Linked DNA regions of Homo sapiens. The protein of the gene in region 2 purifies or fractionates together with the protein of the main gene of each other region. This does not show direct contact. Each region holds a gene or a part of one and is shown on either strand. Other genes may lie near its edges.

Region 1 (3,652 bases), on a different chromosome or scaffold from region 2:
GGTGGCAGTGTTGCTGGTCGCCAGGCTGTTGTCCATGGGGCCGGTGGCATTGGTGATGGACACTTGGACACACTGGCCATAGAGATCGACTACCGCATACACCTCTGGGGAGGAGAGGGAAGGTCAGAAGCCTGACAGCCAGGTGGTCTGGGCTGAGGGTGGCAGGCTGAAAGCCACATAGTCACCTTTACCCGGAGGCAGGCCCGAGCAGGCAGCGCCTTGGTCCTGGCCGTTGATGAAGTAGTGCAGGTCGCCCTTGGCAGTTCGCATCATGCCAATGCGTGCACCTGTGCCCAGCGCATCCAGGTCACACCCATAATTGTTGCGCATCGTGTTACCGTCTTGCATGATGGCTGTACCACTGGGGGGATGGCAGAAGGGGTGAGTCAGCCTGCCAACTTCAACTTCACATTGGCCCCTGCCCACTCCCTGTCTGTCAGAACCCTCCAATGTCTTGGGCTGGTGTCTTGATCTGGGTGTAAGGCCCAATCCTATCTCCTCTGTCCCTGGGATCCCCTTAGGAAAAAGCAAGAACTGCCTAAGATGAAGGAGGACTGAGCCCCTGTGGGCCTGGGCAGGACTTCCCAGAATTCAAGGGGAGGGGACAGGTAGATCCCCTAGGTCTGTCACTACCCACAGCCACCATAGGCCCAAACCTTGCTTCCCTGATCCCAGCCAGCTCCACTCAGCCCCAAGCTGGTCCCCAAAGCAGGAAGCCCAACCTCAGCATCCATGTGTCATAGTCAATGTCTGTCATGGTGTTGGGGAATTCCAGGTCTTCAGGCCGAATAGCAGTCACTCCTGGGAGGAGGCAGGGGTAAGTCAAGGCCGATCCCCAAGGCACAGACATCCAACAGCCCCCAACACACACAGACGGCCCTCACCAGCCTCAATGGAGCCTGACCAGCGGTCCACCATCTTCTGAATGACAATTTCAAACAGCTCTCCATCCCGCAGGGCCCTGCCAGGAGACTGGCGATCAGAGAGGCTCTACTTGCATGGCTGAGGCTGGGCAGGAGGAAGGTGGGGACATGAAAGTTGAGAGACTGACCGGTTGGAGATGACGATGGCGTCATTAAACTCGCTGCGACAGTTGTGGCGGAGGGCGGTGCGGCCCCCGTTAGTGATGACTGCGTTACTGCCGTGCAGCTGATGGAAGCGCAGGTCAGAGCCCCCGGCCCCTGAGGACGGAGAGCTTGGAGACACCTGGTTGTTCCCCTCAGGGAGTGGTTCAGGAACTGGAGCCACCTCTGTAAAAGTGGACATCACCCATCAGGTCTCTAGGTGTCTCTCAGACCTCCCAAGGCCACCCTAACCCCCAGCCCCAGCCCAGCCCGGCCCTCACCCACGTCGTCCACAATGGTGGCCTGGGCCGCCTGGCCATAGAGATCGACGACAGCATAGACGCCCGGGGGCACGTTCCAGGCAGCAGGGCCCTGAGTCATCCCATTGACAAAGAAGTGGAGAGTCCCGTCCTCCCGCCGTACCACGCCCACCGTGTCCCCTGCCTTGGAAGAAGGGGGTGCTGGAGTGAGGAGTCAGGCAGAGTTCCTGCCGGGGCTGGTCCTGCATCAGCCCCGCGGTGTTTGTGATGCCCGCTGCGGCCGCCAGGCGGCGCACCCACTTTCCCACCTTGAGGCGGTCCAGATTGTGCCCGTATTCATCCAGGATGGTCGTCCCATTGTGCATCACCCCATTCCCAGTCATCATCCAGGTCCCTGGGAGGACAAGGAGCAGGAGGGGACATGAGGGGAAATGCAGGGCTCCTCTCCTTGCCACAGCAGCGCCCACAGGACTCCCGAGCCCACAGTCCACCTTGCCTTTTCTTTGATGACTAGATTTCTTCCCTGAGCAGGACAAGAAAACTCTGCAGCTTCCAAGACAGCCACAGCCCTGCCCACGGGACACTCTCTAGCCACTGAATGAGTGGTCACAAGAGTGACAAGTGAAAAAGGAGCTGCAGAACAAGTGCCAGGGCTTTGGGGATAGCTTCCCCCCAAAACCCTATCCTGTCCCTGCCCTTCCTGGGAGCTCACCAGAGCGCAAGTTGGTCATGGTGGAGGGCAACTGGAGGTAGGCAGGGTTGTGGGTGGTGACACCAATTTCAATGGAGCCAGCCCATTTGTCCACCATCTTGTCGATGCGCACCTGGAACACCTCTCCATCCCGCAGGGCTCTGCTGCTCAGCACCACGCCGTGATTGAAGTCATCGGTGGCACTGAGGGCACAGCAAGTGGAGAGTCAGATCCCCAACACACGCTCTCAATGTGCCAAGGCTTAGCCCAGCAATGCCTGCCAACACTCACTGCCCCAAGCCAAAGAACTAAAGCTCAACCTCCAGGAAGCTGCCCCCGCCAGGCTCCCTCTGCCTTCCACTTCCTTGCCCCGCCCCCCCCCCCCCATTAGAATCCCTTCTTCAGGCTTCTCCCCACCCCATGGGCCATACTGGGGCCTCAGGGCAGTGCGTCCCTCGTGGGTGATGGCTGCCTTCTGCCCACAGTTGGGGTGGAAGAGCAGGCGCTCAGGTTCTGCCTGGGCGGCAGGGGCAGCACGGCGGAGAGCACCCTCGGGGGACAGCGCCCGCAGGATGGCGTTGTTTCGGCGGAGACGGTCACTGTGGTTGTTATTGTGGACGATGGTCACCTTCACTGCCATCCCGTACAAGTCCACCACACCATACACCACTGGGGGCGTCAAGGGGGTTGCCACTCCTGTGGCAGGAAGGTACGGGGGTGTGGGAGTGGACAGGGAGAATGAGGGGAGAAAGTCAAACACAGGGAGGCCAAGCACCAAAGAGAAGCAGGAGGATGAGGTACAGCCCCCAGTCCCAGCCCCACCGAAAGCCCCGGCCCAGAGGCTCTCTCTGGGCGGCCCTTACCCTGATCGATACCATTAATGAAGAAGTGTAGGGCAGAGTTGGACTTCCTTGTGAGGCCAATGTGGTCACCCTCCTAATCAAAGAAGACAAACAGTTTAGAGGAGTCCTGAGGCCTGCTCAGCACCCCACTCCACACAGGAACAACTCCAGAAGGTATTCGTGAGAGTCTCAGACCACCCTGGAGGACAGGTCCTGGGTCCTTGTTTTCCAGACATGACAATTTCCACATTTCGTCAATGCTCCACGTGAGTCAGGCACTGAGTTAAACCACCTCACAGACATTAGCTTCTACAAGTCTCAGCCTATGGAATAAGTACTACTCGTAGGCTCATTTTAGAGATTGCAGGAGGTGGGGGAGCAATCAAAGAGGATAAGCTTCTTGCCCCGGTTCGCTACTACAAATGGGAAAACAGTAAGAGGAATTCAACCATCTGACTCCAAAATCTGAGTGCTGAACTCTTGGGCAACTCAGGCTTCTAGGAAGGAACCTTTAGGTGGAAGATACAGGGACTGCCTCTAGGTCACATAGGAGACCCTGCTTGGTGCCCTGGCAGGGACACAGAGTACCTGTGGCTCTGCTGAAAGCGGCCCAGGGATCTGTGCCCCACCCTCACCTGCAACTCATCCAGACTGAATTCGCAGTACTCCCGGCGGGTGCCCTTGCCATTGGTCAGGATTCCACAGCCGCTCATCATGATGGTGCCTGGGTGATAGTGGACACTTGGGTTCGGGTACGGGGCTTCCTTCCCCTCAGCAACACCAGGCCTGCACCCC
Region 2 (3,184 bases):
GATGGAATTCAAGATAAGCATATCTACTATATTACATTTCAGAGGGAATAATGTCAGAATAAAGCTGCAGTATAACAATTGGGTCTATTTAAACCTCACGTAGCTTAGCTGGTGACTGTTTCATCATCTTTATTTTAACTACTTCAGACCAGATATGGCTGGCCAACAATTTCTTACCAGTCTATTAACACTTCCTATTCTAAGCCAAGAGAAGACAATTATTTATTGTTTCCACGTACAAGGACTCTAGAAAGTTGGAGTAAAAGGAGAAATGGAAGCAATGCATTTCCAGACAGGTTAAAAAAAGGAACTTATCAGAAAATAGGATGATTATTTAATTATAAATTGCAGTAAGAGGCTTCAGATCCAAATCTTATAGCTATTTTTTTTTGAGACAGAGTTTCGCTCTGTTGCCCAGGCTGGAGTGTAATGGCATGATCTTGGCTCATGGCAACCTCTGCCTCCCAGGTTCAAGCAATTCTCCTGCCTCAGCCTCTCAAGTAGCTGGGATTACAGGCATGTGCCACCACACCCAGCTAATTTTTCTATTTTTAGTAGAGACACGGTTTCACCATGTTGGACAGGCTGGTCTCCAACTCCTGACCTCAGGTGATCCACCCACCTTGGCCTCCCAAAGTGCTGGGATTATAGGCATGAGCCACTGCATCTGGCATAGCTATTGTTTTAAAATCACCTTTCCCATCCCGCCAATTAGTATTACATGTTATCTATAAAACACTGCTAAAACCACACATACCTTTTTTTCTTGGCCTTTCTTTCTACATTGGTTTCTCCAATGCTGATAAACACGAGGGGGAAAAAAGCTCCTGTTAATAGAGTGATTATACACAGCTCAGACAAGCCCTTCTACTATCCCCCAAATCATTTTACTCTGGAGAAAGATTCTGTGTTTTTATCACATACAGAGTACAGTATTTCTTATTATAAGCAAGTGGAAAGTCTGCCATTGTAGGCTGTATACGGTACATGCAGTCAACTTAACCAGCATTTAAGCAAGACAATGCATCTTAGCACGTGTATAAAAGTCAGGTAGGTTAGTAGTTAAGATGATTAAATTTTTTTAGTCTGGAACTTAGGCTGATATAGCTGTATCACTACCTCCTGAACAACAGAACAAAGCTAATAGCACAATAGCCCTAATTTGTAGTTTGAGTTCTCAGAATCATACAAATAGCCATTTCATAATTTTTCAAAAGCAGCCCTTTAATTTAAAATAACTATTTCTTTTTCTGCATGTCCCGTTATTTACTTTTTTTTTTTTTTTTTTGAGACAAAGTCTTGTTCTGCTGTCCAGGCTGGTGCAGTGGCGCGATCTTGGCTCACTGCAACCTCCGCCTCCTGGGTTCAAGGAATTCTTCTGCCTCAGCCTCCTGAGTAGCTGGGACTACAGGTGTGTGTCACCAAGCCCGGCTAATTTTTACATTTTTAGTAGAGACAGGGTTTTATCATACTGGCCAGGCTGGTCTCAAACTCCTGACCTCATGATCCGCCCACCTTGGCCTCCCAAAGTCCTGGGGATTACAGGTGTGAGCCACCCTGCCTGGCCGAGTTATTTACTCTTTAAAGACCAGAAATGTAATACTTCAAAACTATGCTCACTCACATTAGTTATAAAGTCTGGTAAATTTGAATGAAAGGGACAAATAGCTTGCTGCTATTATTCTGTCAAACAACATGCATACTAAATCAGGTTTTTAAATTACACAATTAGGCCAGGTGCGGTGGCTCACACCTGTAATCCCAGCAGTTTGGGAGGCCGAGGCAGGCAGATCATTTGAGGTCAGGAGTTCGAGACCAGCCTGGCCAACATGGTGAAACCCTGTCTCTACTAAAAAAAACACAAAAATTAGCCAGGCTTGGTGGTGCATGCCTGTACTCCCAGCTACCCAGGAGACTGAGGCAGGAGAATCTCTTGAACCTGGGAGGCAGAGGTTGCAGTGAGCTGAGATCGCACCATTGCACTCCAGTTTGGGCGACAGAGCAAGACTCTGTCTCAAAATAAAAACAACAACAACAACAACAACAAGAAAAAAACAATTAATTCTATCACCACTGTCCTGTAAATTTAACTTTTTTTTTTCTTTTTGAGATAGGGTCTCACTGTTACCCAGGCTGGAGTGCAGTGGCATGATCTTGGCTTACCGCAACCTCTGCCTCCCAGCCTCAAGCAATCCTCCCACCTCAACCTCTGGAGTAGCTGGGACTACAACACGCACCACCATGCCTAACTTTTGTATTTTTTGTAGAGACGGGGTTTGACCATGTTGCCCAGCCTGGTCCTGAACTCCTAAGCTCAAGCAATCTGCTCACCTCAGCTTCCCAAAGTGTTGGGATTACAAGTGTGAGCCACCACACATGGCCAATGTTTTTATATCCTGGCCTTCTCTATATTTCCTAGATAATGCTTCCATCATTGTTTCCTGAGTCTCCAAACATAAACATGTATTTATGTAAAGTTTTTTACACAATGGAATTACTTACTGAATTGTCATTTTGGGCATAAAATAAGAGGGTGAAGTATACTTATTAAATTATAACTGAATCAAAATTCAGCAATCTTTTTTTTTTTTTTTTTTTTTTTTTTTGAGATGGAGTCTCCCTCTGTCGCCCAGGCAGGAGTGCAGTGCTGGATCTCGGCTCACTGCAAGCTCCACCTCCCGGGTTCATGCCATTTCCTGCCTCAGCCTCCCGAGTAGCTGGGACTACAGGTGCCCGCCACTATGTCTGGCTAATTTTTTTGTATTTTTAGTAGAGACAGGGTTTCACCATGTTAGCCAGGATGGTCTCGATCTCCTGATCTTGTGATCCACCCGCCTCAGCCTCCCAAAATGCTGGGATTGCAGGTGTGAGCCAAGGTTCCTGGCCAGCAATCTTTTTTAACAGAGCCAGATTCATGTAATTATATATATTTTTAGACCAAAATACTTGTGAGATACAATTAGAAAAACAAAAGTAAATGTCAAAATAAAATTTTATTTATGTATTTATTTTTTGTAGAGGTGAGACTTGCTATGTTGCCCAGGCTGGTCTCAAACTCCTGTCCTCAAGTGATCCTCCCACCTTAGCTTCCCAAAGTGCTAGGATTATAGGTGTGCGCCTAAACTAGAATGAAAATTTTCATAACCCGTATTTCATTCTTTAGGACAGGGGTCTTCAAACATTT
Region 3 (3,652 bases), on a different chromosome or scaffold from region 2:
TAAGCTCAGAAGCCAGTTTTTTCATTCATCACATTTTTTTGAATAAAAATGTGTAATTAGCCATTTGATTTTAGTTGGATAGCCATCAATACTTCAAAAACATTAAAAGTATAGACTCTATATTATGAATATTAAAAATAAATTTTGGGTCACAGAAACAGCATTTGAGAATCATAAAATGGATGGCAAAAATAGAAGGATATTTCAGCTAGGCAGTGGGACAGAAATACTGATGTAAAAGTAGTGTGATTTAAATGGAATGAGTTGAGAATCTGAATTCACCAGTTTTAAGTTGCCTGACTGCCGCCACGTGGGGCATATTGCTTAAAACTTCTCTTGAGGGTGATTATATCTAACCCAGGGGACATTTGGGAATGTCTAGAGACACTGTTGTTTGTCAGTATTGGGGCTGTGTGTTTATGTGTGCTACTGGCATGTTGTAGGTAGAGGCGGGGGATGCTAATATCTGCTTGATGTCGTCACAATATACAGGACAGTATTCCGTCCCCTTCTTCCTCCCTGGTGGGCCCAATTATTTGTCCCAAAGTCAGCAGTGCTGAGGTTGAGAAACCCTGGGATAATGCATTCTGAAGTGCTATACAAGTGTTAGCTAAGGTGACATTATTAGTTGTAGTCAAAACTTTATATGGACTATAAAAGTAAATTTATGGAATTTATGTTCAAGGCACTTAATGCCGGAATAAAAAAAATACAATTGGGTTGGGGGAGAGATACATACATATAAAACAAAATAAATGCTTACAGGAGAATCAAATGAAAATAGAAAGTATGGTATCAAATTTACCTAAAAGTTGTATCTTGAAAATAAGTTTGTTGAATTTTATATTCTGAAGGCTAGATATGAAAAGGGCATAGCTCTCTAGATCAGGGTTTGGCAAGTTGCGGCCCAGCCAGCCTCCTGCTTTTGTAAATAGAATTTTATTAGAACACAGTCATACTGCTTTATGTGTTACTTAACAGTTGTTATTTATAGTTGTTGGGGTAGAAACCATATGGCCCACAAAGCCTAAGAATGTTAGTCTCCACATCTTAAAGAAAAAGTTTGTCAGCCCCTGCTCTAGATACTGGGAAACTCAAGCTTTCTGGATATAGAAAAAAAATGAAATGATTTCTGTGTTCAGTAAAAGCCCTTTTTTAGTATAATTTGGTATTTAACTTTATAATTTAATGAGATCCACTAAGTTTTGATAGTGAGATTTAAACCTAAGTTGGACTTCAGAATCTGCTCTTCATATTATAGCAGATAACACATCTGCATTAGCATTCTTTTGTCTTTTCCACTTCTGCTCTCAAGTGTTATGCTTTAGAGAGTAATATGTAATTACAGTATAAAAGATAATTAAGAAATAATAGAGCTGCACTTAATGCAATCTTCTGTCATTTTATAGAAGAGAAGAAATAGGTCCAGGGGAGGATAAGTTACCGAGGTGATATGACTGAGGGGAAACATTTTTAGAACTCAACAATTCCAAAGGCAGCAGCTCAAATTCCTTTAGAGTACGGTTTCTTGCTCACCTGTCCTGTTCCAGATACACACTTAGCTGACAGTGATCTCTGAAGAGGTGACTTTGAATTTGCTCTTACAATATCTAAACGAGATGAATAATCTGGTGCATACAGAGAATTTCGGAAAACCTATTGTAATGATAAAATAGCATTATAAAGTAGATGCTAAACAAAATCAAGACAGTCAAATTAAGTTCCTTAGTTAAGATTTTTTTTTAAAAAAACAACTCCCCCCAAATGGACAAAATTCCAATTATTGTAAATGTAAAAGAAAAGACAACAAAAATAAGCTAGAAAGATGAAAGCTAAAAATTCTATTTGAACTATGTAAGATGATGACAGATATTAAACAGTAATTAGTCATGAAACAATCATTTAAATGCTTTTGCCAGGAGAACTGCAGAAGTTGAGACCCTCAAAGAGCATGCAAGCTAGTAGGGAGGCTGCGACTCATACCTTTGAATCTTTCTGTTCTGCAAATTCTCAACTCTTACCAATTTAACTCTGCAGTACTGCTATGAAAATTACATAAGAGTAAATTGGAACCACTATAATTTATGGATTCCAACCTTACTAGGATCTGGAATGCCATGACTTGTCAGTTCTCTTTCCTTAAGGCACTATTTCCAAATGTTTACCACTTTTAAGCCTTTCTAGCTCCATCTTTTCTACCCTACCCCCACCATTTCTCTATATAGACTAATAGGTAAGGTTATCAGATATGAATCTCTTGAACTTTCCCTCAAGCTTTTCGCCCCTCCTTTTCCTTCTTTCTCTTTAAAAATACCATTCTGATTTAGTTCCAATGTGCATTTTTCCTTTAACCAAAACTTCAAACCCAACCAACAAAAGCTTTTGTTGTCACAGGTTCCCTCTCCTAAAAAACAAGCTCAAGATCAGTCTTTTTTTTTTTAGTTATCTCAAGGTATAACTACTTAAAAAACTTTCTTGAATATTCGACTTCATCTCCATTTTCTTTTTAAACAAATTTCTTTTCCATTTATTTATCAACAAACTACAATTGAGCTTTTCACCTCCCACTAAAATTGCTCTTCCTCACATCACCAAGGTCTTTTTTTCCTCTTCATCCTCACTGACCCCCTTCCTGAAACTTAAATGCTACTAAACTCTTTCATTGTCCTGGCTTCTCTATTTCTTTACATCTCCTTTTCTACTACTTATACCTAAAATATTTTTAAAGGGTTTCCTTTAGGCCACTTATTATATATAAAAACAATGCTGCTGCACACAGTGGCTCATGCCTATAATCCTAGCACTTTGGGAGGCCAAGGCAGGAGGATCACTTGAGCCTAGGAGTTTGAGATCAGCCTGGGCAACATGGCGAAACCCTATCTCTCCAAACAAAAAAACAATCAGCCAGGGGTGGTGGTGCATGCTTGTAGTCCCAGCTACTTGGGAGGCTGACGCAGGAGAATCACTTGAGCCTGGGAGGCAGAGGTTGCAGTGAGCCAAGATCACAACACGCCACTGCACTCCATCCTGGGCAATAGAGTGAGACCCTGTCTCAAAAAAAAAGTTTCTCTGAAAGATCTTATCTACACTGTTAATGACTACCCTTCAACTAATCCCCTGACAAGCATACCCTGTGATAGCTGTATTCATGCTCCCAACTATCTCCTGCTCTAGACCAGCACTGTCCAGAAGAACTTTCTGAGATGATGGAAATGCTTGCTGTTCTGTACTGTACAGAAACGTAGCCACTGGCCATGTGTGGCTACTAAGCACTTGAAATGTGGTTCACGTGGCCGAGGAGCTGAATTTTTAAATTGAACTTTAAATAGTTATATATGCCTAATGGCTACTTTACTGAACCGTGTAGCTCTAGATTAGCTATTACAATGAAAGACATTATCTTTTACCTAGAAGACCAAACTATAAGCCTGGGCATTCTCCCTAAATTTCTCACCTGACACTTTGGGAGGCCAACGCAGGCGGATCGCTTGAGCCCCAGGAGTTCAAGACCAGCCTGGGCAACATGGCGAAACTCCATCTCTACAAAAAATATGAAAATTAGCCAGGCATAGTGGGACGTGCCTATAATTCCAGCTACTTGGGAGGCTGAGGTGGGAGGATCACCTAAGCTCAGAGGTCAAGGCTGCAGTGA

Evidence for each region.
Region 1: the proteins of ZCCHC10 (region 2) and NEURL4 purify together in Homo sapiens (co-immunoprecipitation; 3 studies listed by BioGRID and IntAct, with this or other methods). This does not show direct contact.
Region 3: the proteins of ZCCHC10 (region 2) and CIBAR1 purify together in Homo sapiens (co-immunoprecipitation; 2 studies listed by BioGRID and IntAct, with this or other methods). This does not show direct contact.

Annotation. Positions count from the first base shown.
Region 1 is NC_000017.11:7,322,763-7,326,414, forward strand, and holds part of NEURL4 (neuralized-like protein 4), read right to left. Parts: intron 3,582-3,652; coding exon 3,493-3,581; intron 2,952-3,492; coding exon 2,879-2,951; intron 2,712-2,878; coding exon 2,447-2,711; intron 2,219-2,446; coding exon 2,037-2,218; intron 1,719-2,036; coding exon 1,633-1,718; intron 1,509-1,632; coding exon 1,346-1,508; intron 1,251-1,345; coding exon 1,052-1,250; intron 962-1,051; coding exon 885-961; intron 802-884; coding exon 723-801; intron 362-722; coding exon 186-361; intron 105-185; coding exon 1-104. UniProt on the Homo sapiens protein: Promotes CCP110 ubiquitination and proteasome-dependent degradation. By counteracting accumulation of CP110, maintains normal centriolar homeostasis and preventing formation of ectopic microtubular organizing centers.
Region 2 is NC_000005.10:132,999,375-133,002,558, forward strand, and holds part of ZCCHC10 (zinc finger CCHC domain-containing protein 10), read right to left. Parts: intron 1,046-3,184; exon of another isoform or gene 1,022-1,045; intron 828-1,021; coding exon of another isoform or gene 800-827; coding exon 758-799; intron 1-757.
Region 3 is NC_000008.11:93,724,398-93,728,049, reverse strand, and holds part of CIBAR1 (CBY1-interacting BAR domain-containing protein 1), read right to left. Parts: intron 3,541-3,652; exon of another isoform or gene 3,455-3,540; intron 1,657-3,454; coding exon 1,537-1,656; intron 920-1,536; exon of another isoform or gene 806-919; intron 1-805. UniProt on the Homo sapiens protein: Plays a critical role in regulating mitochondrial ultrastructure and function by maintaining the integrity of mitochondrial morphology, particularly the organization of cristae.